Homo sapiens: one gene and its partners. The protein of the gene in region 4 purifies or fractionates together with the protein of the main gene of each other region. This does not show direct contact. Each region holds a gene or a part of one and is shown on either strand. Other genes may lie near its edges. The genes, in order: IPO5, SERPINB8, PKP1, SPICE1, CEP120 and NXPE3.

Evidence for each region.
Region 1: the proteins of SPICE1 (region 4) and IPO5 purify together in Homo sapiens (affinity purification with mass spectrometry; one large-scale study listed by BioGRID and IntAct). This does not show direct contact.
Region 2: the proteins of SPICE1 (region 4) and SERPINB8 purify together in Homo sapiens (affinity purification with mass spectrometry; one large-scale study listed by BioGRID and IntAct). This does not show direct contact.
Region 3: the proteins of SPICE1 (region 4) and PKP1 purify together in Homo sapiens (affinity purification with mass spectrometry; one large-scale study listed by BioGRID and IntAct). This does not show direct contact.
Region 5: the proteins of SPICE1 (region 4) and CEP120 purify together in Homo sapiens (affinity purification with mass spectrometry; 2 studies listed by BioGRID and IntAct, with this or other methods). This does not show direct contact.
Region 6: the proteins of SPICE1 (region 4) and NXPE3 purify together in Homo sapiens (co-immunoprecipitation; one large-scale study listed by IntAct). This does not show direct contact.

The regions. Positions count from the first base shown.
Region 1 is NC_000013.11:98,018,390-98,023,104, reverse strand, and holds part of IPO5 (importin-5), read right to left. Parts: intron 4,621-4,715; coding exon 4,401-4,620; intron 3,525-4,400; coding exon 3,296-3,524; intron 2,114-3,295; coding exon 1,972-2,113; intron 1,370-1,971; coding exon 1,283-1,369; 3' UTR 1-1,282. UniProt on the Homo sapiens protein: Functions in nuclear protein import as nuclear transport receptor. Serves as receptor for nuclear localization signals (NLS) in cargo substrates.
Region 2 is NC_000018.10:63,982,514-63,988,167, reverse strand, and holds part of SERPINB8 (serpin B8), read right to left. Parts: intron 4,590-5,654; coding exon 4,447-4,589; intron 3,076-4,446; coding exon 2,923-3,075; intron 1,911-2,922; coding exon of another isoform or gene 1,902-1,910; exon of another isoform or gene 1,518-1,901; intron 1,295-1,517; coding exon 890-1,294; 3' UTR 1-889. UniProt on the Homo sapiens protein: Has an important role in epithelial desmosome-mediated cell-cell adhesion.
Region 3 is NC_000001.11:201,330,998-201,333,489, reverse strand, and holds the end of PKP1 (plakophilin-1), read right to left. Parts: 3' UTR 501-2,492; downstream 1-500. UniProt on the Homo sapiens protein: A component of desmosome cell-cell junctions which are required for positive regulation of cellular adhesion.
Region 4 is NC_000003.12:113,503,003-113,508,656, forward strand, and holds part of SPICE1 (spindle and centriole-associated protein 1), read right to left. Parts: intron 3,604-5,654; coding exon 3,505-3,603; intron 226-3,504; coding exon 178-225; intron 1-177.
Region 5 is NC_000005.10:123,383,981-123,389,634, forward strand, and holds part of CEP120 (centrosomal protein of 120 kDa), read right to left. Parts: intron 4,627-5,654; coding exon 4,452-4,626; exon of another isoform or gene 4,324-4,451; intron 2,688-4,323; coding exon 2,538-2,687; intron 1,154-2,537; coding exon 971-1,153; intron 1-970. UniProt on the Homo sapiens protein: Plays a role in the microtubule-dependent coupling of the nucleus and the centrosome.
Region 6 is NC_000003.12:101,798,669-101,804,322, reverse strand, and holds part of NXPE3 (NXPE family member 3 isoform 1 precursor), read right to left. Parts: intron 3,089-5,654; coding exon 2,334-3,088; intron 1-2,333.

The DNA of each region.
Region 1 (4,715 bases), on a different chromosome or scaffold from region 4:
TAGTTTTAATAAAGTAATACAAATCATTTAAAGAAAAAACCTTTAATTTAAAATTCTGATCTATGCATAAAATTCATTTTTATATCACGGTTAAATTTAGTACAAACTATAAAAATGTTAACACTGAAGTTTTCAACAGAAGTCTATTAAGATGCCTTAGAAAAATTAAACAACAGCAAGTCATTTACTGCTATGAGGTTAATACATAAAGAAACATTCACACATTTTACTGAAATTTTCAGTAAATAACTTTAGCCATAACACTTATAATTAAAAGTTCAAAAGTTGTGTGTGGCTCTACAGCAATTATAATTTGCAATGAAAACACTAAGCCAAATCTTTTTGAGCTGATCAGAACAATCTTAGCTACAAAATTGGCTGAAATTTGCAAACCTTAAAAAGAACACCAATTGTGAATGGAATAGGTATCATAACTTAGCTTAAAGTGGAAGATGGTAAAAACTCGATGCTTAAGTCTGAATTGCACAAGGAAAATATTAGGGGAAAAAACACTCAGCTATTACTGATAGCTATTACTTTAAAAAAATATTAGATCATTCTTATATTAAAAACATGAAATGAATCCAAGCCAGACAGTACTGAGTTTTTACACAAGCCTCTTTTGTATTCAATGTTGTTTATTGAGGAGTGAATGAGAGACTACTGCCAGACATGCCAATGACACTTCACATTCAAGGGCTGGAAGCTGGAAAGCTTCCCGACTGAGTCACTGTATAAGCCTTCTGGGAAAAAGAACCAAAGTGACATCAAATATGCCATCTTCATGCTTGTTGTCTGTCATCAGTTTTTTTCAACTTTTGGGTCTACTGGTTTGCTGGGTAGGAGGCTTCTTTCTACCCTACAGAAAGACTCACACTCCCAATTCACAATGAACACTGAATGCAGAGCAATTTGTGTGAACACACATCTACGCTGAGTAACTGTTCTTAAAGCTGTTTTTCCTTAAATTTCCTTATGTCTAACGAGAAAAATTAATTTGATTTCCCTTTCCCCTTCAGGTGGGCGGGTTATACCAATAGAAAAATAGTCTTCAGTGCTAGCTACCGCAGGGCTTCCAGGAACTCCTTCAGTGGTCTGGTAGAAATCCATGGAAACTCCATTCTGCAACACAGCGCTGCTCTTCCTGCTTGTGGCTCTCCAGAAGAATGGCCTACACACAACACTACCGATCTCTTTTGCTCAAAAACAAAACAAAGAAACCTAAAGGAAAGGGTAAGCGTTTATTTGGAGTTAGTTTTCTGGTGGGTGACATTAAGGCCCTTCACGCAGAGTTCAGGAGCTCCTGAATGGCGGCCTGCTGCTCAGGACTGAGCTGTGCTATGCACTCAGTCCACAGTCCTCCAGAAGTCTAGGGAAAGAAACATTTTCACAGACTTAGGACGAAATGCTCATTTGGAAGGATTTTAATCATCATCATAGGTAAACTGTAATCATGGCAAAATACCTTCTCCCTAGGTACATTATTTTGATGAGTATCATTGTAAAAGCAAGAAATCTGTTCATTTTTTTAAAGTTCATTTCATTTCCAGTAAGTTTTCTTCATTTTTGCACTGAAAAAGCTACACTAAGCAGGTAACATCTTAAAGTAACCCATATACCACATGAATATAGGAAGTAAAAATCATATAAAGTTTTTTGGCAGATGACAAGTTATTATTAAATCTTGTTTTTTTTTCTTAAGATAGGCAGAAAAACTACACATAAGCTTGTGTTAAGCACCAACTGGTAAGCTCAAAATGTCCTAAGATGAAGGTTTTAATTCTAATAAATAATAAGTACATACGGATGGATTACATTAAGTATAATCCATTTGAGGCTTGGAGACAAGAGACTATGAAAATATAAAAATAAAATTCCTTAGCTCATTAGATTTCTAGTTTCTTCTCATAGAGGACTACAAAGAAAAAAAGGTTTTATCTCCCCCTCCCCAATTCAACCAAATCAGCTTACCTGTACTTGGCGAACGACATTGGCCAGACGTTTGGCACAAGGATCTTCATGTTTAATTGCCTCGTGCATTTCTCCTTCCGCAATTATACTAAATATTTTGGGCAGATTGGTATTGTTTGGGCCAAGAACAATTGGATGATTACTGACAAATGAGAAGAAAACCTTAGTAAGTGAAATTTATAAGGAGAAATATGATTATGTGTTCACTAAAATCAATGGCCTTTTAAATTCAGTAGGAAGAAAACCAGCCAATCTTATATATGAACTCTTTAGTTTCTTTCTACATAAATTAGAAAAAAAAAATACTGGGCTCATCTCTCAGGATTGTTTTAAGGGCCAAACAACAGAATGCTCTAAATACCTTATAAATAATTTGTGATGTGTTAAAAAAAATGTTTTGTATTATTAAAAATAAGTTTAACACAAGTTTTATTTTGCTACTACAAAATAGCTTCTAAAATAACTCTGAAGTTCAAAAAAATTATATAAACATTTCAAGAATAAACTGGGAAATAAACTCAGGCAAGTTTAATGGGAAAAAACCTGATAGCGAATTTAAGAATTCTAGTCTTTGTCACTAAGAGAATTTCAGAGTAGTCGTTTCCAAGGAAGATGATCAAATAGCATGATTAAGACCTGGTCATTTCAGATGTAGGAGCAGGTCAGGAGTATGTAGTCTGCAGGATGGCTGTTACATTCCTTAATGATATGGTCAGTGGAAGACTCAAACCCATTTCTTATGTGAACCTGAACTTAAACAAGTATGGAGAATATACCTGTTGGCCTATTGCTACAATAGTGGCAGTGGTTGTAGCCCTTGAATTTATTCATAACCTAAAAATAATAATAGCGACAGAGCTTAGATCTGACTGATATTTGGGGGGAACTTGGACTTAGAAAACAGACACTAAACAACATTCCCTTAGGCTGGGTTTGGTGGCTCATGCCTGTAATCCCAGCACTTTGGGAGGCTGAGGTGGGAGGATCTCTTGAGGCCAAGAGTTTGCGACCTGCCTGTGCAAAACAGTTAAGACCTTGTCGCTACCAAAAAAATTTAAAAACAAAGAAATAAATAATTAAAGTGCCTCATCTGTTGAATCTAATTTCATAAAGAATAACTCAAAATTAGACCTTATTATAAGGGCAATGTTAACTGTGATATGGTTTCTTAATATGATTTATAAAGACAGCACTATTATAAACCTATACAACTGAGGACTGTGCAGAGATCATGTGGTTAAACCTTAAAAGACTGATGTTAGGCAAGAAAAACCAGGAAGCACTGTGGAGGAGAAGGAAATAAGGTCACAGTCTGCTTTCCTACCTTTCAATCAGGTCACACAGATAATTGAAAGTCTGAACAGCTTCTTCTTTATCTTCATGTAGTGGAAGCCAAGACAACCAGTGTGGAAGGACCTCTTCAACGTTTACACAGTCAGGCTTGAACTTCATGATTTTCCCTACTGCTGAGATGCAGTTCTCTGTAGCATTGACATTTTCTTTGGTCTTAGAATCCGCAGACTGAATAACTCTTACCAGCAGGGGAAGTGCTTCTAAAATAAGCATTTGAAAGAAGTTCAGCTAAAACCTCACATTTTCATGCAAATGAATATATGTATTTTTGTATTTGGTTCAGATATTGATTATGGTAAAGAAATGTTAAAGTGTATGGGAAGTGTTGTCTTCTTGGCTATGTCATTACAGAATGGCAACAGAGGGGGGACTGCCCCAGCATGGACAGGAGCACTAGCCCTCTACTAACTTAGAGACCCAGAGAGATTAGTGGCCTCCAGATTTACAGTACTCATCACATCACCCGAGGGTCCTTAAACTTTAAAAGCTGCCTAACTATATTCCCCAGTAAGTTTTAAAAGTCCTATTCTGCCAGGTGTGGTGGCTCACGCCTGTAATCTCAGCACTTTGGGAGGCTGAGGTGGGCCGATCACGAGGTCAGGAGATCGAGACCATCCTGGCTAACATGGTGAAACCCCATCTCTACTAAAAATAGAAAAAATTAGCCAGGCGTGGTGGCATGCGCCTGTAGTCCCAGCTACTCAGGAGGCTGAAGCAGAATTGCTCGAACCCGGGAGGCGGAGGTTGCAGTGAGCCGAGATCATGCCACTGCACTCCAGCCTGGGCCTCAATTAAAGAAAAAAAAAAAAGTCCTATTCTAAGGCTGTTGTATATTGCCAAAACGCAAAGAGAAATGCACCCTGGAAGGCTGGGGGCAGGGGATGTCTTTGATTCTATTTCTATGAGAATAAATCATCTTTTTATCATCTAAAATCCTAAATGCTACAGATGAGATGTCTGAAAACAGACTACAGCAGAAATAGGCAAATAATGTTTGGGAGTGTGGTAAAGAGAGTAAAGTAGGGATTCACAGGATGTCTGGAATGAAATGCACGTAACGGAATAAGCAAACGTACCTGTACAAAAAGGGCGATAATTATCTCCACCGTACTGTGCCATGACTCCCAGGCCATATGCAGCTGCTTGCCTGACTTCTGGGCTGTTGTCACATACATATTGGAGCATTGGTCTTAAGAAATATTCTGCGTATTTAAATGAGGCTGGACTACAGTGTTCTATGACATCATCAAAGATGCATAATCCCCATTGTCTGTCTGGCCATGGTCTATGTGGACACTACAAAAGAAATTCTCTTTTAAGCTTCAAATACTGGTGTACACAAAGAATGTAAAGAAATATTCACTATAGACTATCTGCTTACATTGATATTC
Region 2 (5,654 bases), on a different chromosome or scaffold from region 4:
CAGTGATTGCTGTGTGTTGGAATTGTGGGTGACTTCAATTTTTTTGGAGACTTTGCTGTAGTTTCCAAATTGCTGCCACAACGCAATTTTATTTTTAGGCAGAAAAAAATTAATGTATATGGAGGTTCTTTCTTAACTAAGGGGTGTGCTTGAGCTGTGTCTGAGCACATATGATTAGTTAGAGGACTCAGTGGTGTGTTGCGTAAGTTCCTTTGGTATTTTGTGTGTTTCAGAGGGAAAAGGAATGGAAAGAACAGCATAGCAAGCTTCAGATATTTGCCTCCTAGCTCAGTCCTAAAGTGCATTGCTGAGTCCCTGAACTTGTATCTCAGGCTTATGGAAAGATGAGAAGGAGCTGTCTTCATTACAAACTGTGTGAGACAGGGGGCATGCAGGGCTGTCTATGTGACAGTGACAGAAGCAGATCACTATTTCAGCTGCACATGAGACACAGGGTGGCTGCAGCTTTACTCTATAGGGTTTGCCCTTGGCTTTGTGTGCAGTGTCACCTGGGCACTAGTCCCCTGTTCAGCCTGGCAGTGGTGGTGGGCAGAGCCGGGCGGATGGAAGAGGGCTGGCTCCTGAAGCCCTGAGATGCTCCATAAGATCCCCTGAAACAATGGGCACAGACTTAGGTGAAGGCAGAGGCAATGGCAGGCACCCCAAACACTCCAAAACCAGCATAGCCTTCCCAGGCCCAAATTTCATGCATCTGCGGCCTCAGTTATTCTCAATGGCTCTGGAACTTTCAGCAAAGACTTTCACACACTATCCAGTGCACACGCTTTATTTTGGCATTCAAGCCACTGCACCAACTAGGTCACAGGGAATGTTAATTAAGGCAAGATAGGTAGAAGGAAAGGAGGGTATGTACAGCAATTGCTCCTCTTTACGGAGAAGAGAACCTGCCACAGAACAAGATGCAGTTGGTTTTGTGGTGCCTGATGAAGAAAAGAAAAGGGTGGTCTGCACAGAATCTTGGCTCCATTCTGCTGCACCGGGAATTCCTGACCACAGCAGTGGCTGCGGCAGCCTCTGTGCCTTCCTCATTGACCTCCACGAAGCACTTGTGGGCAACCTTGGACAGAGGCACATTCTTCTCAGTTGACATTCCAGAAAAGTCTGCCTTGGCTTCGTCAAAAGCATCGATCATTCCTAATCTTCGAAGGAAAGGCTCCAAGTCATAACTCTCCTCCAGCTTTAATCTGGGAAGGAAAACTTGAACCTTACTTTTTGTCAACTTTTCTGAATTTGTCCAGGCTTTGAATTTCTCATATGTAAGTGCTTTTTCCACCTAGGATAAGAAAGACTCAAACCTTAAAATTTAGATGACAATAGCCTGATACCCACACACCCATTTATTACCCCTCCCCCAATGACATGCAATTAGATGGTGAGTTCTGGTCCAAGAAAATCTACAGATATTTTCTTTTATAAACACACCAAGATTTTCTCCCAAATTTTCATCTTTTCACAGTTTTATGGAGACAAGTGTAAAAGAGCTAGTAAACACCTGAGACAGGCAGAAATTTTTAATAAAAACAATTTGTACCTAACTCCTTTCAAATGTTAAAAACATTTTTTAACAGTTTAGAAAATTCTAACCAATTCATTACATTAATCTTCATGCAATACATACTACTGTGAGTGGGAGAGATTGTTTGACAAAAGACAAAGAGCATGGCTCAGAACTCTGCTTCTGAGTCTAATGAGGGGACTATTCAGGGTTAAATCAGAGGGCAACTCAGAGTAAAAGAGAGGGAATTGTGTTTCATCTGAAGATGAAGGGAGGCATGAGAAGGGAGCATGAGACGAGAAATGGGGAATGCAAGAAGACTTCATCAGCATCCTTGTTTGTCCTCTGCCTGTCCTGGAGTTAGCTTCAAATTCTTCAAGATCCATCACTCTTTCTATTTATCAATAAGGTAGAAAGAAAAAAGGGAGAAAGGCCTTCCACTAGCATCTCCCCTTCCCTTTAACAACTGGAGCCCAGGTGGGTACTCCTCTCCAACGAGCATTGTTTTGATTTTGACTCTATTTCTAGACTCTCCTAATTTTCTCATAAGTGGCCACAACAGATGTCATCCCTGACTTAGGGCAGTAGCTTTCTGATTCCAAAGGGAAGCCAGGAAAATCAAGCAGCCCACCCTCAACATCCTGTGCATTGGTGTGCCAGAGCTGACCCCTATCAATTGTTAAACCCTCAGTAGACTAAAGTCGGCCATGGTGGGAGTATTTACCATGTCATGAGAATCAGCAAACTTTATAAATGAAGGCTTCTCCCACCTCCCAGAGCTGGTTTACAAGTGCACTATTAGTCTTGCACCTCCTACCTTGCAAGTTTACCACTTCCCTTCCTGGACTCTGTTCCTTTTCTGTCACAGTAAGACTTTTCTCTCCTCTTGTATAAGGTAAATTTCCCACCTGTACTTTAGACTTTTGCTATTCATAGTGTGGTTCCAAGCATCTGTATCACTTGGAATCTTGTTACAAATGCAACATCTCAGGCCACACTCCATTGAATCAAAATCTGCACTTTAACAAGATCACTAGAATCATATATGTGCATTAGTGTTTGAGAATCACTGCCAAGATTGATCCCTACCCTTCTTCCAGGACTTTTGTGCAATAATCATTGGGCTTTCAAATAGACCTTCCATGCAGAATAAAGAATAATATTCCAAATAATAATATATTTAGAACTCTCTCTTCTTAGCTTCATCAAAACTTGTCCACTCATATATGTATACACTCAACAGAAATGCATGAACATGTTCATCAAAAGACACACAATGATGTTCACCCAGCACTGCCTGTAATAACCCCAACTGGAAACTCCTCAAATGCCAATTGGTAGATGAACATAAAGAAATGAGCTCAGCTGGACTCCACAGATACTCAGGCTCATTGCCTGGAGCTTACCACGGCGAGGTCCGTGTTGTCATCGGGAAGCAGAATGACCATGCTCAGCTCCTCTTCCACATAGGGCAGCTCCAGGACCTGGGTGTGTACCTCATCCGCATACCCCATTTTAAACTTAGCTTCCTTAAACATCATCTGCACTGTCTTTTTTTCCTAACGGAAAAATTAAAGTTCGATTACTGAAAAGTGGGTATAATTTACTAAAAATAGGATATATCTAACTCACAGAAACTCTAGGTGTGTATAATTACTGTTTCTGCACATTTATGCTGATAGATATAAAATCTTCATTAGTACATCTTAGTATTGAATAGAACAAGCTATTGTTCCAGCAGATCAAATATTACCAGGTGAGAAAAAAAAAACAGTTTGGTAAATGGAGAAGGACACAAAAATTGACATTATCCTTGGAAGAAGCTGTGTTTGCTTTTTTGAGAACATTCACAGAGAAGCTTTCTCATGGAAGCTTCCAACTAAAAATTCTTTATCGAAGTTAAGATAAATATTCAGGCCCTTGGGCTGAAGGATCTGGTTAGAAAAGATGTACGGTCCAAACTCTGGAAAGTTGCCTTGTTGTAGAATTGGTTTTATGGCCTTGGCTTTCTTAGGAAGGGGACCTTGAAGAGATGTGTAAGGTCTGCTGTTTTTAAAGCCTGCATCAAATATATTTTTAACTTTCATATCTTTGTGCAATATGAGAGTATCATATTTGATGGATGTCAAATCCCAAGCTAACAACTATTGATACCAGCCATTTTAATATTCAAAAGGGAAGGTAAAGTTAGGCTTTACATCTGCTAACTTTTTTTTCTTGTGCTCAGGATTGTATAACTTTGACTTTTAAGGCAATAAATAGGCATAGTTGCCACTGATATTGCAAAAAGGTATCTAACTAAATACAGAGAGTAATAGCATCATGCAAACATAATTCCAAGGCTTAGAAGAAATTCTCCTCCAATCCAAATCATATGACCAGAGATGGAAGGTAGATTTGATCAAAGATGGAAAAACAAAACTATCAATACCAAAATTATTTTTGTTTCTCTCTTCCTTCCGCCATTAAAGATACACAGGAGGCATTAAATTCATTCAGAAAAGAAGCCAGGCACAGTGGCTCCTGCCTGTAATTCCAGAACTTTGGGAGGATAAGGCAGGTGTATCACTTGAGGCCAGGAGTTTGAGACCAACCTGGGCAATATGACAAAACCTTATCTCTACAAAAAATACAAAAATTAGCCAGGCCTGGTGGTGTGCACCTGTAGTCACAGCTACTTGGGAAGCTAAGGTTGGGGAATCATTTGAGCCTGGGAGGTCGAGGCTGCAGTGAGCTGAGATTACACCACTGCACTCCAGCCTGGGTGACAAAAAGAGACCCTGTCTCAAAGAAAATAAAATAATATAATATAATTCAGAAATAGATTAAAATCAAGATCATGTCAAATAAATTATTCATTTTTCCAAGAGAATATTTCCTGTAATATTACTTTAAGAAAGTAGCAGTATATCTGAAAAATCTTTCCCTACCTCGTTGGTTTTAAAGAGCATTCCCCTTGTGTACTTTCTGTCAAATTGCTCATTCCACTTTCCCTTGAAATAAATGGCATTCACAAGGACCAGCTTTGTCAGGGGATCGACTGTCCCAGCATCCAGTACCTCTGAAATCTTACCTATAAAGAATATGAGAGTTTATTGCAATTTGTGGGGAAATAAGCATTCTTTTACAAAAATCCCTTTGACACATAAGGCAGAGGCTTGGTTGAGAGACAGGCTGGAGTTCTGTCTTTCTGGGCCCCTGATGAATTAGGCGATGGTGTTTAGCAGTGTGGCATACACAGTGTAACATTTGTGCTTAAGAAAAAAATCTTGAAGTAGGAAGGGCAACTATCATTTTGCCCTCAATTTATGGATGTAGAAATTCAGGACCAGAGCATTTGCCAGACTTTTGCTGAGTGCACACAGGTGACAAGTGGCTGAGTTGAGAACATCACCCCAGAGTCTTGATTCTGACTATGGGGCAGTCAACCTTGGCACTATCATATCCAAGCCTCACCGCTATTGTCATTTTAAGCCAGATAATTCTTTGTTATGGGGGCTGTCTTGTGCATTGTAGGATGTTTAGCCAGCAGCATTTCTTCCCATTTTGACAACCAAGATTGTCTTCAGCCATTATCCAATGGCACCTGGAGGGCAAAGCTACCCCTGGTTGAGGATCATTGCTCTATGCATATATTCAAACCTCATCAGACAAGGAAAGCTTTCCAAAGGATGAGAGAACACAGATCTGTCAATGGGAGAAGGCAGCCTCTCTGAAGGGGGTGAATGGGGCAAAGGAATTAGGGGGGTAGAATAGAGGGGCCCAAATTGAGTTGTCCAATGAGAGGGTAACAAGGTCATCTCCAAGGTCCCCTTCAGCTCTAATATTCTGGGGGAAATGTGGGTGGTCAGCCTAAGGGAAGGAAGGGCATAAGCAGCCCTGGAAGAGCAGTGACAGGTATAGGGCAGTGGGGGGAAGGTGTGGAGAAACTTCTAGGTTCCTCAGGTGACAGTACTGTTGAACAACTGGAAAGACCACTAGGCAGATGATGTATGAAAACACAAAAGGCTCTTCCCTTCCCATGGTAATTATTGTATTGGCTTTCAGTAGAATCAGGGGCATTACTTCTGCTGGACACACAGTGGTTGCGACATAGGATGGAATGGATGCAATAATGAGTGCTAGGTTGGCCCTTGAA
Region 3 (2,492 bases), on a different chromosome or scaffold from region 4:
TGAGACCCATAGTTGGGAGCCTTAGCTGGGAGGATTGCTTGAGCCTGGGAGGTTGAGCCCTCTTTGAGCCATGATCTCATCCCTGTACTCCAGCCTGGGCAACAGAGCAAAACCCCTGTCTCAAAAAGTAAATAAATAAAACTAAATAAACACCAACTCCTTGACCTTCATCTTTGAATTTCTCTTTCCTACAGATGCCCCACCTGGATGGGTTCAGGCTTGGGGACATTTACAAGCTGTGTGACCCTGGGGGTATTTGTTCCTTCCCTAAGTCTCGCTTTACTTATTTTAAAAATCAGGACAGCAATCCTAGTGTCATGGAGCTGCGGTGAGGCTCGATGTGCTGCTGTAGAGCAGGTGTCCATGGATAGCGCTGTCCCTGTGCCCCCGGGTGGCATTCTCAGTCCTTGCCTGGTACAGGGTAAGAGGAGATCATGGAAGGAAATGAGTAGCCCCTTCATCCCTCAACAGCACCCCAAAGAATCCACTCCTCGAAAAAGTTCAAAGAAACACTAGCAATTTATTGATTTTCTCTATTTCCAAAAAAAGCAAATACATTAGTGTATCACACAAGGAAACTGGGCCTGGCCGGCACAAGGTTCCTCTACAAACATGAAGCAAGGGGAAGGTGGGCTACAGGGAAGCTCCAAGATCCCTCACAGCAGCCCCCGGCTTCCCTTCCCTGCCCACCCCAGCCGCAGTCTTGGTCCTGCCAGCCAGTTCAGCCAGATTCCAAGGTGGACATGCAGACAGCAACACTGCCTCTTGGGTCCCCAGGAGGAGTGTGGAGTCAGGGCTGCTAGTGTGGTCCCCACTGCAGAGGTGGCTGGTGGCCAATGACTGGATTTGTCATTGGCCGCTAGCACAGGAGATCCCAGGGCAGAGTCTGTGTCCTTCCTCATTTGGCCCCAAATTGGAACTCCTTATTTTGGGCATTGGCCCTGGTAGTGTGAGGCCAATGTGGACTTAAAATCCTGAGACGTGTGTCGGCTACATGAAGCCTGGCAAGCTCCTTGTTCTCTTTCTCTAGGAAAAGCCCCTCTCAGTTTTGCCCCTCTCAAAGTGACAGGCCTGGGTCAGAGGCCCGGGTGACCTGAGCTGGCCTGAGAGGGAATGGGCAGTGTCACCAAAGTCAGCCCTGCCCTAATAGTCTGCCTCAGCCCCTGAGGTCTGGAAGGCTGCCTGGTTCCCAGGGCAGGGGCTGGGCCCATGGGGCTCTTCATTCTTTGAAGGTGGGAGGAACATGAGGCGAGGGGATGCAGGAGGCCAGGGTAGTGCTAAGGGGAAGGGGCATCCGCCTGGGCTGGTAAGGTTCACATGCAGCGGTGCATTTCCCCTCCCGCCCTGACCGGACTGCACAGCCCCCAGCCGGGGGAGCCCTAAAGCCAAGGACTTGTGTCTCCACTTTCCTCCAGAAAACATAAGCCGCATGAGGACAGGGATGTGGTCTGTGTTCTTCCCTGATGTAGTCTAAGTGCTTAGGACACTGCCCCGCACAGATTGGTATGCCATACGTATTTTTTAGGAGAAGAATTCCTCTGGGTTCTGATGACAACAAAGGAGGCCCCTGAAACCTATGCCCAGGACAGTCCAGGGATCCAGGCTCCCACGTGGGTCCCTGAGAGGGAGAGGTGAGCCAGGAGTGGGCCTCCCAGTGTGAACAGAAGCAAGGGAGGGTATGACAGACCCACAGCACCACAGCACAGCTGGCTAACAGCCGGGGACACCTCTCGGAGGACAGCGTCCTCACATGTCTGGCGTCCCCCATCTCAGTTATCATACTGAGTCCACATCAGTGTTTTCCAGCCTGAATGCTGGGGCAAGAGGTGGGTTTGGACTCGGGGGTGGTGCAGAAGAGGAAGACTTGGGAGGAGGCTGAGAAGGGGTGAGGAGGAGGAGCATCTTATATTCTTCTAGAGAAGGGCACAGACCAGGAAGTTAATTCCTCTCTAACACCAGCAATGCTAGCATGGAGGTAGAAGCTGGAAGGAGGAAGGCTTGGGAGCGCTGGGCTCTGCTCTGTCTTAGTGTACACCAAGGGATGTCCACACAGGTTTTCTCATAAGGCCCTCGGGAGCCCTCCTGCTGCTGCTGGTCTGAAGTGCACAGAGTCTGGGGGCTCGACGTGGCTGATACCCCTAATAGCCCTGTTTATCACATCCCCTGTGGGTTTCACAGAGTGGAGACAAGACAGCTGGGGTCAGGGGAAGTGGGGCATGGCCCCTGGCTGAGATGTGAGCTTGCCGGTACCGGTACCCTGATATGGCACTTTCCTTTCCTAGTCTACCCAAACTCCCCCCGTCCAAGTCTCCTGGGACCCCAAACACTCCCTCAATTGACTCACAGCAGGCTTGGTGGAAACATCTTCCTGGTTAATTTCTATACCCCAACTCCATCCCACTAGAAGCCGGAATAGGTATATGCCCAGCCCCACTTGTTCCCCTCTCCACTGGGAATATGAAGACCAGCCATTCCCAGAACAGCTCTTGGGA
Region 4 (5,654 bases):
CCTAGCTCAAATCAGGAAGTCCAGAAGATAGGCGTTTTGATTTTATATAGACATAAACAAGATTAAACATAACTGAACAACTTCCAGGAAGTGCCTATAGTTTCTATTCTAAAGGTTACAAGTCAAATACCAAATAAAACACTGAATAAATGACTTAAGTTTTGATATTAAACTCACCAGATCTTCGGGAGTTGCCCGATGAACGGTTAGATCAGTCACGGTATTCTGTAAAAAAAGGTGGCCTTTCTTTAAAAAAAAAAAAAAGTTTTCTTATAAAATATACACATTTATTGGATTTTAATGGCTAAAATGGTTTCAAAATCCTAGGACCAAAAATTCTTTCTTTCTAGGAACCAGTATTCTCAATTTAGATATGAACACATATTAGTTTTAGGTGTCCTATTTATAGAAAATAACAGACTAATTTTAGATGTCTTACAGAAAATAAGTACTGTATTCACCAAGCAGTCATACACTATAGTAAAACAATGAAAATACTCAAAATGAATATATGATATATGAATAAATGGTAGTATATATTCAAAATGAGTAAGTTTAACTAAAGTTTTAGTTTTCACACTGTAGTCTATGGAATCCCAGGATTCCACAACGTAACGCTAAAGGTTCCTAAAAGAAAGTGAGATCACTGGCTGGGTACAGTGGCTCATGCCTGTAATCCCAGCACTTTGGGAGGCTGAGGTGGGTGGACCACCTGAGCTCAGGAGTTCGAGAACAGCCAGGCCAACATGGCAAAACTCCATCTCTACTAAAAATACAAAAATTAGCCAGACCTGGTGGCGGGCACCTGTAATTCCAGCTACTCAGGAGGCTGAGGCAGGAGAATCACTTGAACCTAGGAGGTGGAGTCTGCAGTGAGCCAAGATTGTGCCACTGCACTCCAGCCTCAGCAACAAAGCGAGTTTCTATCTAAAAAAAAAAAAAAAAAAAAAAGAAAGTGTGATCACTATAGAGAGGTTCAATTTGTGTCTGCAAACATCTTAAGCATAGATGCTACTACAATGGAAGATGAAATTTGAGGGCAATGCATAATTTCATAAAATGTAAAAACAGTCAGTTAAATTAAAAGGCACTAAACTATCATGGCAGGGCTACCACCCTGCACAACTCCATAAGTTACCATTAATATCAGAGTCCGTGTAAATAGCACCCCTTGAAATTGTGTGGTACACAGGCTGCACAGCTCTAAGTAGCAACCCTGTAACTTGGCCCTTTCCAAAGCAACTTCAGCCATTTTGCTACACAGATTTGGTAAGGCAGGAAATAAAACAAGTTAGTTTTACTTCTAAGTGACGAGGAATACGAACAGTCAAAAATGGCTTCTGATCAAAGACTAAACTTTTTGGCCATGATTTATATTTGGCTCAAGGCTTTTCTGTATGAAAACTGTTATTACTTTTACAATGATTTAGAAAGGTACAAGAGCCAGGCATGGTGGTGTGCGCTTGTAGTCTCAGCTACCCAGGAGGTTCAGGAGGCCGAGGCAGGAAGATCTCATCATGAGCCCAGGAGTCTGAGGCCAGCCTGGGCAACATAGCAAGACCTTGTCTCAAAAAAAAAAAAAAAAAAAAAAAGGGAAAAGGAAAAGAAAGGTACAAGGTACAACTACAGGATCATGAGAATTGTTTTTAATAGGCATTTAAAAACTCAGGCATACAAGTAAGTGATAGGCTTGAAATTTGTTCTCATGGAAGAAAATAATAATTCCATCAATACTAAAACCATTGCTTAAAACCATTTTCTTTTGACATTCCATTTAAATCTAATCTACAAGCCATTTCAGAAAATGTTTCACTATTTTTATCAAGACAGTAATAATCAGTTTGATCTCTTCTCCATCATTTACCATTTACTCCAAATGACTTATGACTATTTTCCAAGTTCAGTCTACCTTCAAAAAACAAAAGATTTTTCCAGCACTGCAGATAAAATGAGGAAGGTTCTTAATGCAATTTCAAATGATAGATTTCAATTAAGTTTTAAGCAATAGTGGCATATTGGAATAAATGCAGTCATCCCACAGTATCCAGGACACCCACATATACCAAAATCCACACATACTCAAATCCCACCTAATTGGCTCTCCATATCTGGGTTTTACATCCTGAAAACACTGTATTTTCAATCCACCTTTCGTTGTAGAGGTGGAACCCCAGGATACAGCCAACTGTATTTATTGAAAAAAAATTCATGCGTAAATGAACCCGTGCAGCTCAAACTCATGTTGTTCAAAGGTCAACTGTACTAAACTTCTCAAAGTAACCACTCTGAAGGGGAAAATATGTTATCACATATTTTTTTTTTCCGATTTATCAGTTTCCTTACCTTAGAGTCACATCCTTGTTATTAAAATTTTATAGCCAATCAGACAGCAACAAAACAATCTAAACACAGAGAAGTCCCGCTGCCCCACTTCAAAGGCTGTCAGTTTGCCCAGGATATCTGGCTAACATGGTAGGTTGCAAACAAGAAGATTCCAAGTCCAAAAGAATCCCTGAGATCCAAACTAATCCCTAACTAGTTACTCTTCACAATGGAAAGTAAAGACACCTAAAGTCTCATGGTCCAAACCAAAGTATCAGGTCACAAAAGAGAAATCTAGCTGGGTGCAATGGCTCGCCTATAATCCCAGCACTTTGGGAAGCGAAGGCACGAGGATCGCTTGAGGCTAGGAGTTTAAGACCAACCTGGGCAACACAGCAAGGACCTGTCTCTACAAAAAATATTTTTTTTAAGTTAGCCAGGGGTGGTGGTGCATGCCTCTGGTCCTAGCTACTCAGGAGGCTAAGGCAGGAGGATTGCTGGAGTCCAGGAGTTTAAGGCTGCAGTGAGCTATGATGGCATCACATCACTCCAGCCTGGGTGACAGGACATGACCCTGTCTCTTAAAAAAAAGATATAAATCCCCTTGGTAACACCAGGCAATATTCAGGTTAGGAGCCATACATCACATGTTACAGGTACTTCAGCCTTGTCTTATACCACAAGAGAACATTTGTTCTGAAACCGATCAACCTCTGGAATTGAGCAATTCATGGGATAAGAGAGCAAAGGTCACCTATTTTTTTCAGCCAAAACTGGCACTCACATGGTTATGATATCACTGGTTGCTCTGAGCAAACCTAAAAAAGGTACCGAAAAATTCACAGACTTCATTGACACCAGTGAGCTAGAGTTGCCTTTATGCAGTGAGTTCTCAGAGTCAAAGTGAAAAGACGTTTTTTAAAATATGCTCCCCATCCCCTTAGGATTCCAATTCTTCAGAGGATATAGAGGTTACAGCCTGGATGTGTGTATTCTAAAAACCTCCCCCAAAGGATTCTGCTTTTCCCTCCAAGACCTAGAATATCACATGCCCAGAAACCTATTCCACCCTATTACGTGATGAGCCCCATTCAGAACACCATCTTGCATGACTAGGGCCATATCACTGTGTCCATTTCTCCAGAGTAATGTTACATTATTTACTATCCCACCTATACTCACATCCCATTCTTGTTTCACTGAAGTTTTCTTCTTCTTTACTTTCGGTGTCTTTCTTACACCAACTCGGGGACCACAGCGGTTCACTCTGACAAATGACATCTAGGAATAATAATCACATCAAATTTTTAAAATACAAGAAAAAACAATAAGCATCACCAGAGTGGGGGAAGACACCTGAAAAAAAAAACAAATTTTAAAATGCCAGAAGAAAAATTTAAGCATGATGAAAGGAACAGCCTATCAAAATACTTAGTTCTTTTATTTTACAACTAATAAATGTTGGTACTGATAATTATAATAAAAGAGGTCTCAAGTCAATAACTTATATATTTGATTAAAAAAGAACTCTAGGAATGCAGAAATTATGGCCTAAAGCCGAGAACTAAGACATTCGTCATAAGCTTTGTCATCAGTTACACAAATTTACAATTAGTAGAAAATAGCCCAGTCACAAGCTAACAATATGAATGTAAGGTGAAGGGAAGAAAGGGCAAAAGAGAGTTGGAGTTCTTTTTTAAGCACTCTAACACTCAAAATCACTACCAGGTACATATGGGCTTACTTGAAAATAAAAGTAGCTAAACTTTAGAGAACAAATGAGGTATGATATCACTTCTAATATATCTGTCACATAATGCTAAATGGTGCTAATTATTGATTTTTTTCTATTGCTGATAAACAAATTAATAATTATTGATTTTAAACTAGAATTTTTAAATTGCCAACATTAGTTTGCCACTGTTTAAACAGCAATGCTAAGCACACTAGACTACACATTACACCAAATTAGAAAAAGACCCATAGTCCCCGAACACCAGGATTTTACAATACATATATATGACTTTTAAAAAGCAATACATATACATGACTACTATTGCAGACACTTTTAACCTACCTAAATAATTACAGGACTTTCCAGCTGACCCCCTTACTCCCAATTAGTCTAAAACAAGGACTCTAGTATTTTCCTTAAGTACTTTTTTTTAAAAAAAAATCATTGTCTACTATAATAAAAATGTCTAAATACAAGTATTTCTTAAGAGTTTGCCCTCAATCTTCCTTGCACTCTGTACTCTCTCTTAACAAGAACATTCACTCCTTAAACATGGTATCTAATTTCAGCATTTACAATTTCAGCCAAAGAAAACAAGTCACATACAAGTTAGAAAATAACATTTAAGTTTTATGATGGTAATGATGATGATAGCCACGGTGGTAATGATGGCATCAGCTAACAGATACCGTGTGCTTACTATAAGCCAGATGCTATTCTAAGCTCTTTAAACATTATTTTCTTGAATCCTCACAATAACCCCATGAGGTACTTACTATTTATTCCTCATTTTACAAACGAGAAAACTGAGAGACAAAAGTTAACCAACCATGAAGGTCACACAATTAGTAAGTAGCAGAGCCATAAGTACCATTTAAAAAGATACAGAATATAATAGAACAAAGAGTCTAAAACAAACCCTTACATTTATGGTCAGTTTTTCAACATGGGTGCCAAGACAATTCAACGGGGAAAGAATAGTCTTTTCAACAGATGGTGCTGGGACAACTGGATACGCATATGAAAAAGAATGAAGTTGGACTCCTACCTCACACCATATTCAAAAATTAAATTGATTCATGGATTTAAATATAAGAGCTAAAACTACAAAATTCTTAGAAGAAAACATAAGAGTAAATCTTCGTGAGCCGTGGGTTAAGCAATGGTTTCTTAGAAATGACACAAAAAGCACAAGCAACCAAAGAAAAAAATAAATTGGACGTAATCAAAATTAAGAATTTTTGTGCTTCGAAGGCACAATCAAGAAAATGAAGACAACCAATAGAATGGGAGAAAGTATCTGCAAATCCTCTATCTGATAAAGGACTTGAATCCAGACTATATAAAGAAATTTTACAACTCGACAATTTAAAAAATCCGATTTAAAAATGGGCATAGGACTTGAATAGACATTCCTCCAAGGAAGATACTATAGACAGCTAATAAACACATGAAAAGATGTTCAACATAATTAGTCATTAGGGAAATGCCAATCAAGATACCACCTCACACCGACTAGGATGGCTATAATCAAAAAGACGGACAACAACAAGCACTGACAAAAATATGGAAAAACTAGAATCCTCACATATTGCTC
Region 5 (5,654 bases), on a different chromosome or scaffold from region 4:
ATAAAGTTAAATGAAGCACTACTGTATCTGACAGAAACTCCTGAGAGTATCTAAGGTTCTCACTTAAGTAAATCTCCTAAAACTTTCTGTCTACAAAGTATGGCAATAAAAGTTAATATTCATAACAAACGGGCAGCATTAAAATAGCTTCAATTATTAGTGATTTTATTATCTTCTACTTACGACAAAAAAATGCTAATTTTTAAGAAAGATTCTTCAATAATAGGAGTTGAAACAAAATGGCCATGAATGGTGAGGAATAAGGAAAGACATTTCAATACTTTTAGAGCTAAAATTTCACTGAGCCTTGTTTCTCTTTTTTTTAGTCTTATCTTTAATGATAAAGGGCATATGATATATAATGTTAAGTTAAATTTTAAATTTTTATTGTTAATTTTGAAAGGATAATTCAACAAATATTTTACTGTATTTAAAATATGTTAAAAAAACGCAAGTTTTTCTTTGTGGCAATGAAGTTCAGGGCAAAAAACCAATAATTATTTTAAAAACTGCCTCTGACTGCCAAATATCTATAATGTCCTCAGACTTTTGATTTGGGGTAGGAGTAAAATATTTTAAGTGGAAAAACAGTCTTAGCCATTCCCAGTGCAAAATAATATAAAATACATTATAAAGTTTAACCTCAAATTACAAAATAAAAAAATAGATCCTGCATTTAAAATTCTCAAGCTAGAGAGAGGAAGGAAAATAATTAGCCATCTGAATATTACAATACCATGGTAACACAGACTCTTGACTTCTGTGAGGTGAAATCAGTATCAGAAAGCTAAAGGGCAAAGTGGGGTATAGCTGCCACAGGTCAGAGAAGATCAGAAAAAGGAGGTTATGAAAGGGTGAAGTGGTGGATCAGAAAAAAGAGGTTATGGAAGGGTGAAGTGGTGGCTGACTAATCAAAATCATTCCATGAATTGAAAAGAAAAGCAAATACCAATTCTGTGAAATGCATTACCCTTGTGCTGCTATAACAGGCACACTTTCACTGTAAGTTTGACGCCAACACTGTTCACCATTAGAACCTAAAAAACGAGTTTTTTCTGAAGACAAGATGTTAGAAAGCTGGATTCTCGCAATTCCCAGAAGTAAATCTTTACTCATTTTATCCTTGTGCCATAGTTCAACCAGTAATGGAATCCTAAGGAAGAGAGAAACATGTGTTCATACCTATCAACTCTGACCTAAAGTCTTTTCTGAACTAAATTCTTTGAATTCCCTCAATGGAGTCAAAGATGTTTTTTGTTACCTGGAATGTCGTCTAACACAATTGTTAGACTGAATGCTAAATTTCACAGGCACCAAATATGAAATGATGTTTCCATCAATGATGAACCTCACATACAATGATGGTCCCATAAAATTATATCATATTTTTACTGTATCTTTTCTGTTTAGATACACAAATACTTACCTTTGTCCAACTGCCTACAGTATTCAGTACAGTCACATGCTGTGCAGGTTCGCAGTCTAGAAGCAATAGGCTATTCCACCCAGCTTAGGTGCACAGTAGGCTATACCATCTAAGTTTGTTTAAGTACATTCTACAATGTTCACACAACAATAGAATTATCTAATAATGCACTTCTCATAATGTATCCCTATCTTTAATTCACGACTATACCTGTTTTTTTTTTTTTTTGAGACAGGGTCTTGGTCTGCCACTCAGGCTGCTGTGCAATGGCATAATCACAACTCACTACAGCCTCAACCTCCTGGGCTCAAGTGATCCTCCCGTTTTAGCCCCCTAAGTAGCTGGGACTGCAGGTGCTGGCTAATTTTTGTATTTTTTGTAGAGACAGGGTTTCACCATTTTGCTCAGGCTAGTCTAAAACTCCTGGGCTCAAAGCAATCTGCTCAAGTTGGCCTCCCAAAGTGCTGGGATTACAGGTGTAAGTCACCATGCCAGGCCTACTATTATATTTTTTGTACCACTTTCTATGCAATAAAAACCTTCAAATGCTGTAATTCCCACAAATGGTTAGATTTAAGTTACCCTTCATTCTTTTTAAAATAATGTATAAATTTGAATTGTGATACTCTGAGAAAGTAAAAGGTGTTTCGCAGATCTCAGATTTTTTCATGAATCCATTTCAGATAGTCAGATTAACATCTCTAGTTATAGGTTTAAAAAAACAGAAAAAGCAAATTTTTTCATTCAGTGAATCAACAATAAAAAGTAAATATTTAGTTCTTAGCTTTTTATCTTCCCACATTATATCAGGAAAAGGCAAGACCACTTTTCAAAGGCCCCTCATTACATATAGTTTGTTTTAACAAAGTTAAAATATCTAAATTCAGGTAAATAAGATAGGAAAATCAAAAAAGAGCCTTTATAATAAACCATGCAAAACCCTGTAGCAGATGCACAAATGTCATACACATAATTAGTAAATTTGTTTCTTGATCCTCAAATGCATAAACTGCTATGGATTTAAACCTATAAGAATTCCTTTTTAATAAAATACAAATTTTCAAGAATTGACTTAAATTAATTAATATCATACATACACTGTATGCATTACCTTAAGAAGGTGTCTTGCAGCTGATGAGGCATAGTTGCAAAATCAAATGCACAGTAAGACTGGGGAAGAAAAACTTCCATGTTTTTCCGAACTTCTACAGGAGGATTAGTCATAATAGGAGCTGCACTTCCAAAGAATGGATATGAGTACCTAGAATTTAAAAAAAAAAAAAAAAAAAAAAGCCTTAATGATATGGTTTACAGATGACATTCAGTCTGTTTTTTAGAAAAAAGTATAATATGAATATTATGAGCAAATACAACTTTTTAATAGAAACATGGTAGACATAGCAATCTGTCATCTGTGTAAGAAGTTCCTTGACGGCACATGTCCTACCTTTTTTATCTCTGCACTCCCAGGGACACAGGCAGTTTCTGCCATATATAAATATTCAAGAAATGCTTCCTAAATTTATTTGTAAACCTGGTTTATTTTATACAATAGTATCCTGATTTTTTATGGGATAAAAAGCCCTTAGTCAACTCCAAAAGGATGCATTCATGGTAATCTGGTAATTATGGTAATCTTGCAAGGATGCAAACAATTCGAATGTATTATGGATGAATCAAGAGAGTGACATAACAACACTGTTTCTCCCTTTCATCACAAAGCCATGCTAGATTAAATGGAAGAATGCCTGACTACTGCTGAACTTAATTTGTATTTAAAGCCAAATATAAAGATATTATAATGTTCATTTAAATTTAATCCTGTATCTTGTTATTCATATATGAGAACTAAAATTTAAACACTATTAGTAAAAACTGCTTTCCAACAAGAAGAATTCTATGTAGTCACCCAATTCCTATATAATTATATATCCATTTAAATCATGTCATTTCCGAGGAAAGTTAAATGCCCTAGAGTTTCAGCTCCCTATGCTTACCACCACACTACAGGATTTAGTGATTAAAAGAAAAATAAATAAAGGAAGTCATGCAGATAAGAAACTTTTCAAATACCAGTGTTACCTAACCAATTCCATGACACAGCTGCAAACTACAATTTCATACCAATACAGAGCATGGTATGAAAATTTATCAACAGAAAAAGTTAAGTGGCCAGCATTTTTAAAGTGCCTTAAAATGATTCAAAGACCGAACTATTAGTCCGTATCAAATGAATTCTATGAAGAGTGTTAAGTGGACTGTAACAATTTATTTCCTCAACTTTTGCAAATGCTAATGCTTGTTCCCAAAAAATTTATGAGGAGATGCTAACTACCCCAAACTAAATACATTATTGTATTATATTTAATTTATATCTCGGGCACAAAAGACTATAAAAATGTAACATCATTAAAAACAAATTATTGTGTAAAACTACTTAACTGACATATATATTATATAAAATTCTTAATATAGAACAATGTAGACACATTCCACTTACAGCTGATTAAGTATGGTGTTTAGATTCATAGCTATGAAATGGAGGTATTAGGAATATGAGCTCCCATTATAATACAGTTTTATAGAAAAATCAGATAATACACTACCTTTTTGACCAGTAATACTTTGACTAGTATTATTATTACTTTTTTTTGACCATTATTATTATTTTGACCAGTAATACTTTTTCCAGAAAAAAAGCACTTTTCAAGTTTAAGAGGCACTGTACTTTATATGGCATATTATGTATGTTTATCAAAATACATACATGTATTATATTACTTAGAATAAGTTATTATAAATGCCTACAATTATTATATCAGAATAATAAGACAGTTACCTCTCCTACTACTATGCTACCCTTGTTTGAATTCAAAATCATTAGGATATAGCCTTACCCCCTTTTAGTCCACTGATTTAACAAATGTTATAACTTCTTTGGTGACATTTCTCTCTGCAATTCCCCAAACACAGGAAAGTCCTTTCTCTTCAGAAAATAATACTTTGAAACAAAATCAAATCACACCTTAATATACAGTTGATTGGAAAACCAATCTCCAAGGCATGTATACTCCTTAAGTCTATTGAAAAGCAAAAATGATGTGATGTTGCTGGTACAGCAATCTTCTGTCCTGAAGCTACTTCTGAAGCATTGGATGTAGTCACTAGCTGGGCCAGTGAAGCAGGTACAGAAGAACTGGCTGAAATGAACATAAAATAAAACAAAATAATCACACTTGCTAACAGTTTCTCTTAAATTGTACAGATAGTTTAAGGCTATCATCTCATTTACCTTTAAGCAGGAATTGGGCTATTTTGTCTCATGAACATATGAATTGAGGTATAAGTATCTTAAAAGTAACTCACACAAAAATAACCCAGGTTTTAATTTCCATTCTAGAATTGTGTGAAAAAAGAGCTTACTCTCAATACATATAGAAAACGTACAGAACCAATAGAGAAATATACATGACTGCAGCCTAGAAGGCACTAACTTATTTCCAAGAGGCACATAACTTAACATTTGAAGGGCTGTATATGAGACTTACTGAGATATAATGACATCACCTTTTTACAGTAATTTTGGTTATTTTAGGCATATTTAAAATAACAGAAAGCTAAAACTTAAAAAGACAGATATCTAGTCCAACCTATTAGAGATCAGAGATACTTAGTGAGTGGCCGAAGTCACACAGCCACTCAGTGACAGAGATGTAACTTACAGCAAAGACATCTAACTCCTAATCCACTACTATTTACACTACTAACTATAACTGCAATGGATGGAAAAATTTTATTAAATCAGATAAATATGCATTCTTAGACTCTCTCTTAACTTCAGGATCAAAAATGGTTATTATGAGTTTACTATAAGAGGCAGTTAACAACTGTTTTCTCCAAACTTCAAGATATTTAAGAATCTAATCATTTAAAAAATCTACTTGCAAAAACTATATTATTTAATGTCTATTGAATAGGATATTTCCAGTGTACAAGTAAAATAAAAAATTCTGTTAATTTAGAGAATTATATTTTGAAGTTAGATAGATTGCAATGACTTTGCATTGAAATTTTTTATATTTCCACACATTACTGTTTTGTTTTTTGTTTTGAGACGGAGTTCCGCTCTTGTTGCCCAGGCTGGAGTGCAATGGCGCGATCTTGGCTCACCACAACCTCCACCTCCTGGGTTCAAGCAATTCTCCTGCCTCAGCCTCCCGAGTAGCTG
Region 6 (5,654 bases), about 12 Mb from region 4:
TCACGGGTGCTTTTTTGTTTTTAATGGTAGAATTTATAGTCAGAAATACTTTTAAGTTTTACACTAATTTAGTTCTCTAAACTTTCTCTATTTTCCACCTGGAATTTGCGTAAATTACTATGTTTCTTCCTCTTTGCTAGGCCACTAAGTAGACTGACAACGTAACTCTATAGGGCAATTATAGTTAACAATCATTTACTATATATTTCAAAACAATTATGACAGTGGAATTGGAATGTTCCCAACACAAAGAAATGATAAATGCTTTAGGCAATGGATACTCCAATTACCCTGATTTGATCATTACATATTATATGCTTGTATCAAAATATCACATCTACCTCAAAAATATGTGCAACTAGGATGTATCCATAATAACTTAAAAATCTAAAAACACAACTCTAACGGGGTATGGTGGCTCACATCTGTAATTCCAGCCCTTTGGGAGGACAAAGCAGGAGGACTACTTGAGCCCAGGGGTTCAAGACCAGCCTGGGCAACATAGTGAAACCACATTTCTACAAAACATACAAAAATTAGCTGGGTGTGGTGGCGCACACCTGTAGTCCGAACTACTCGGGAGGCTGAGGTGGGAGAATCCGTCGAACCCGGGACGTTGAGGCTGCAGCAAGCTGCAATCATGCCACTGCACTCCAGCCTGGATGACAAAGTGAGACCCTGTTGCAAAACAAACAAACAAACCAACCCTCTAAAATAGGGTAATTGAGTAGTCTTCATATATAGGCAAAAAAGTACACAGAAATAAAATAATCTGCTCAGTCACTAATAAATAGCATGTCTGAAACCTGAACCCACGAATAAAATGAAAAATTTTGTTTTGGTTTTGTTTTGAGGAGTTGTGAAATTTAATTTTGTTTTCATTTTGTACTGAGCCATAGAAAATACTAGTCTTCTCAGCAGTACAGTAAACACTGTACATTGAGTAGTGCTCCCTCTGCTGGCCTTCTAAAAGTATGGCATGAACCCACTACATATGTACATAATCTGGTATGACCAAAAGCTGACTTCAGGGTGGAAAACTGAAGAGTTTTATTTTAGGAGCTCCTACAAACCACATACTTTATGGTAGCAACTTTTCTCCCATACGGTAATGAGTGGACATAAAGTATGAAATTTTTAGGGTGCCCAGATATCCTTAACAAAAATACCTCCCTTTTATCCAACAAAAAAATTCTCTCTACCAAGGAATGTTTAAAAACAATATATTTCACTAAAAAGTAAAAAACATGTATACATTCTTTCAAACAATTGTACTTTTTGTTGAGACAGGGTCTCACTCTGTTGTCCAGGCTGTAGTGCAATTGTGATCACAGCTCACTGCAACCTCAAACTCCTGGGCTCCAGCCTTCCTCCCACCTCAGCCTCCCAAAGTGCTGGGACTACAGTCATGAGCCACCACGCTTGGCCAGCATGGTACTTTTTAACCATGTAGCTTTTATAATTTTTTATTTCTTAGTGATGTTATGGAATGTTGAAGAAAACACAAATTTTAATTCATACTGGTTCCATATTCCTTTCTGCACATTATTCCATGTATTTCTCATCATGCTGAAAATATTTTAAGCTTACATTTGAAATAGAAATTTGAACACAATACTGCAATAATTTCAACAACTATTTAGCTTAAAAAATATAGTTTTCTGTGGTATTCCTGACTTCCTATGCTTATTAAGTCAACCCAGCAATGTTGCCATATTCATAGTTTTTTAATCAGTAGGTTCAAATGATTTTAAAAACTGTTATTATGTTACTTTTTAAAGTTTCAGTTCATTAGATACAAAGATAAAACACCAGCCTGACTACCAGCCCTACCAGCCCTGTTCTTGGATTATTTTTTTCTTTACATAAAATAGATGGGGTCTTGCTATGTTGCCCAGGCTGGTCTCAAACTCCTGGGCTCAAGCGATCCTCCCGTTTCAGCCTCCCAAAGTGCTGGGATTACAAGCATGAGTCACCACATCTGACCCTTAGATAACTTCTATCTGTTCTGTGAATAAGGGATTTTACTTACACAGCTACTGTGTAAACATGCTATGTGGTTCTAAAGGAAAACACAGATATGAGGGTAAAGAACAAAAATTCAAGGGTAAAAGGTCTTTAATTTGGACTCAGATAAGCATTAAGCTTCATTTTTAAAACACTAATGAAAAATACAAATCTATGTTTTTTTTTTTATTCACTACCTCTTCTGTATTGGGCCAAGTTGAGAGAGAGGTAAGAAACACATACCGAATACCAGAAAGTCTCCTAAATGGGACAAGGACAGTGGAAAAGAACTCTTCAAATCATCCCCAAGAAAAAGCAGTACATACCTCTGGAAGAAAGCACTCTCTGCAGCGGTTAGGAGACCTTTCAGGTATCCACCTTTGAAATGGGTAATTCTGCTGCTGCAAGGGAGCTTCTTTGGTTTGAAGCAGAACCAGGGCTCCCCAGTGTAGAGGTCTGTAAAGTTACACAGGGGCAGATTCCCAGGAAGACACACGTTGCACTCAGTAGTTTCAGAAATTCTTCCTGAACGGAAGAGACTCTTGAAATAGACCCTGTCTGGTTTATCTTCCTGTAAGCGCTGAAGAACTCTGATCCCTTCACTGGGGTGGACCAGAGATACGGATACTTTAACTTTGCCTGGCCATAGCAAAGTAAAGAAAACCTTGTAAAACCCATTCTGGTAATCCACCACCCTGCCCACAGCCCCAGCCTGCAGCTTGAGGGAGTGAATTCTGGCCTGCAGGTAGTCTCCACCATACTTCTTGGGCTTTCTTTGAAAATCCTGCACATGAACCAGCACCTCAAGCTGGCTTCCCACCTTAAAGAAGGCAGCAGAGTTCAAGATGACAAAGTAGCTGGAAGAAGGGTCAGTGCTCTTCACAAAGGGGACTGGGCCCACATCAGGAACCTGCCGGTGCAAGGCAGCCAGCAAGGAGTCCTCCTCCATGCGCTCCTGGCTGGACAGGGTCTGCTGATCATAGCCACAGTAGGGATTTCGGCTAATTCCTGTCACCTGGGAGGAAACAAACTGTCCACTGCTGTCGATGAAAGTGGCTGAAACAGTCTCATGGTCCAAGTACTGAAGAAGAAGACACAAACAACAGAAATTACCACTATAATAGGTCTCTGTATTTTGGCATAAATTCAGAGGGCTCCCCACACTTCTGTGAGTTTTAGCTCCAGGAGCTCAATCAGATTCTCACAGTGAATATCAAAGAAAAATCCCCTTGGGCTTCCGGGAAGAGAAAGGGAAAAGGACCCATTTTGAAGTATGCAGAGCACTGTGTTGTTCTTAACAAAGCTGCCCCTCAAGAGAAACCACTTTATCAGAACCTAGCCTATTGGAGTTTTATCAGAGCCTAACCAACTTGAGAGAAGGGAAATATCCAACTCCAGCCCACTCGAGCCACCCAGTCCAACCTAAGATGGAGAAACACCAAGAAAAAAGTAAAGGAATGGAGAAAGATATACCATGCTAACACTAATCCAAAGAAACCAGTAGTAGTTATATTAATTTCAGACAGAGCAGATTTCAAAGCAAGGAAGGTTAGCAAAGATAAAGAGGGTCATTACATAATAATAAAGGAGTCAATTCTCCAAAAAAAAAAACAACCCTTAACATGTATGTACCTAACCAATGAGTATCAAAACATGTGAGGCAAAAACTAATGGAGAAATAGATGAATCTACATTATAGTCTGAAACTTCAACAATCCTCTATCAGAAATACACAGATCCAGCAGGCAGAAAATCGGTAAGGACATAGTTGAATTCAACAGCACCATCAATAAACTGGATATAGTTGACATCTGTAAACTACTTCATATCAAGCTCACATGGAACATTCACCAAAACGGACCACATTTTGGGCCATAAAATACACCTTAAAAATTTTTTAAAATAAAAATCATACAGTGTCTTCTCTTAAGCCATAATGAAATTAAACTAGAAATCAATAATAGAAAGAGAGCTGGAAAAATCCCAAAATGGTATACAAATGGGTAACATACAAAATCTCATGAGAAATTTAAAAATATGTTAACTAGGTGAAGGTGAAAATATAATTCATTAAACACTATAGAATGAAGCAAGAGAAGTGCTTAGAGGGAAATTCATAGTACTATACATATTTTAGGAAAGAAAAACAACCTAAAATCAGTAATTTAACCTTACATCTTAGCAAACTAGAAAAAGAAGAGCAAACAATATCCAAAATAAGCAGAAGAAAAATAATAAACATGATAGCAGAAATCAATGAACTTGAAAACAGGAAATCAATAAAGAAAAATCAATGAAACCCAAAGCTGGTTTTTTAAAAGATTGATAAAATTGATAAGCCCTCTACCCAGGCTAAGAAAAAAAGAGGGAGGACACAAATTATTAATATCAGAAATGAAAGAGAAGCCATCACTACAGATCCCATGGACATTAAAGGAATAAAGGAATATTATGAACAATTCTATGCCCATAAATTTGATAACCCAGATGAAATGGACCAATTCCTTGAAGGATACAATCCATAAAGAATGCACCTAATGATGCAAAAGTAATATTATAACTAGTGGAAATCAAATATAAAAGAATGAAGTAGGCCAGATGCGGTGGCTCACACCTGTAATCCCAGCACTTTGGGAGGCCGAGGCAGATGGATCACAAGGTCAGGAGTTCAAGACCAGCCTGGCCAACATGCTGAAACCCCATCTCTACTAAAAATACAAAAATTAGCTGAGTGTGGTGGCAGGCGCCTGTAATCCCAACTACTCGGAAGGCTGAGGGAGAGAACTGCTTGAACCCAGGAGGCAGAGGTTGCAGTGAGCCAAGATCGCGCCACTGCACTCCAGGCTGGGCGACAGAATGAGACTCCATCTCAAAAAAATAATAACAAATAAATAAATAAGAATGAGTAGGGCTTTCTTCATCACTTAGAGCAGGAAGTTAAGATATATTATGCTGTTGGGGAAATAAAAGGACTAGATACATTATTTAATGTTATATATAGAAATAAAATTAATTTTACAAATTGTGGAAGGAGAATGAAGCAGAGGCCTCATCTTTCATTATGTTAACAGTAGTAGATCAGGTGCAGTGGCTCATGCCTGTAATTCCAACACTTCGGGAGGCTGAAGCAGAAGAACTGCTTGAGGCCAGGAGTTCAAGACCAACCTGGGAAACATAGCAAGACCCCCATCTCTACAAGAATTTTTTTTTAAAGTTAGCCAAGCGTGGTGGCATATGCCTGTAGTCCTAGCTACACGGAAGGCTGAGCTGGGAAGATCACTGAACCCAGGAGCTCCAGGTTGTAGTGAGCTATGATCACACCATGGAACTCCAGCCAGAGCAACAGAGCAAGACCTTGTCTCTAACAAATAAATAAATAAATATAAATTAAAACTGGGCTGGGCACAGTGGCTCACGCCTGTAATCCTAGCACTTTGGGAGGCAGAGGTGGACAGATCGGGATCGTTTGAGCTCAAGAGTTCGAGACTAGTCTGGGCAACATGGTGAAACCCTGTCTCTACTAAAAATACAAAAATTTAGCTGGGTGTGGTGGTACACACCTGTAATCTCAGCTACTCAGGAGGCTGAAGCACGAGAATTGCTTGAACCCAGGAGGCAGAGGTTGCAGTACGCTGAGATTGTGCCAC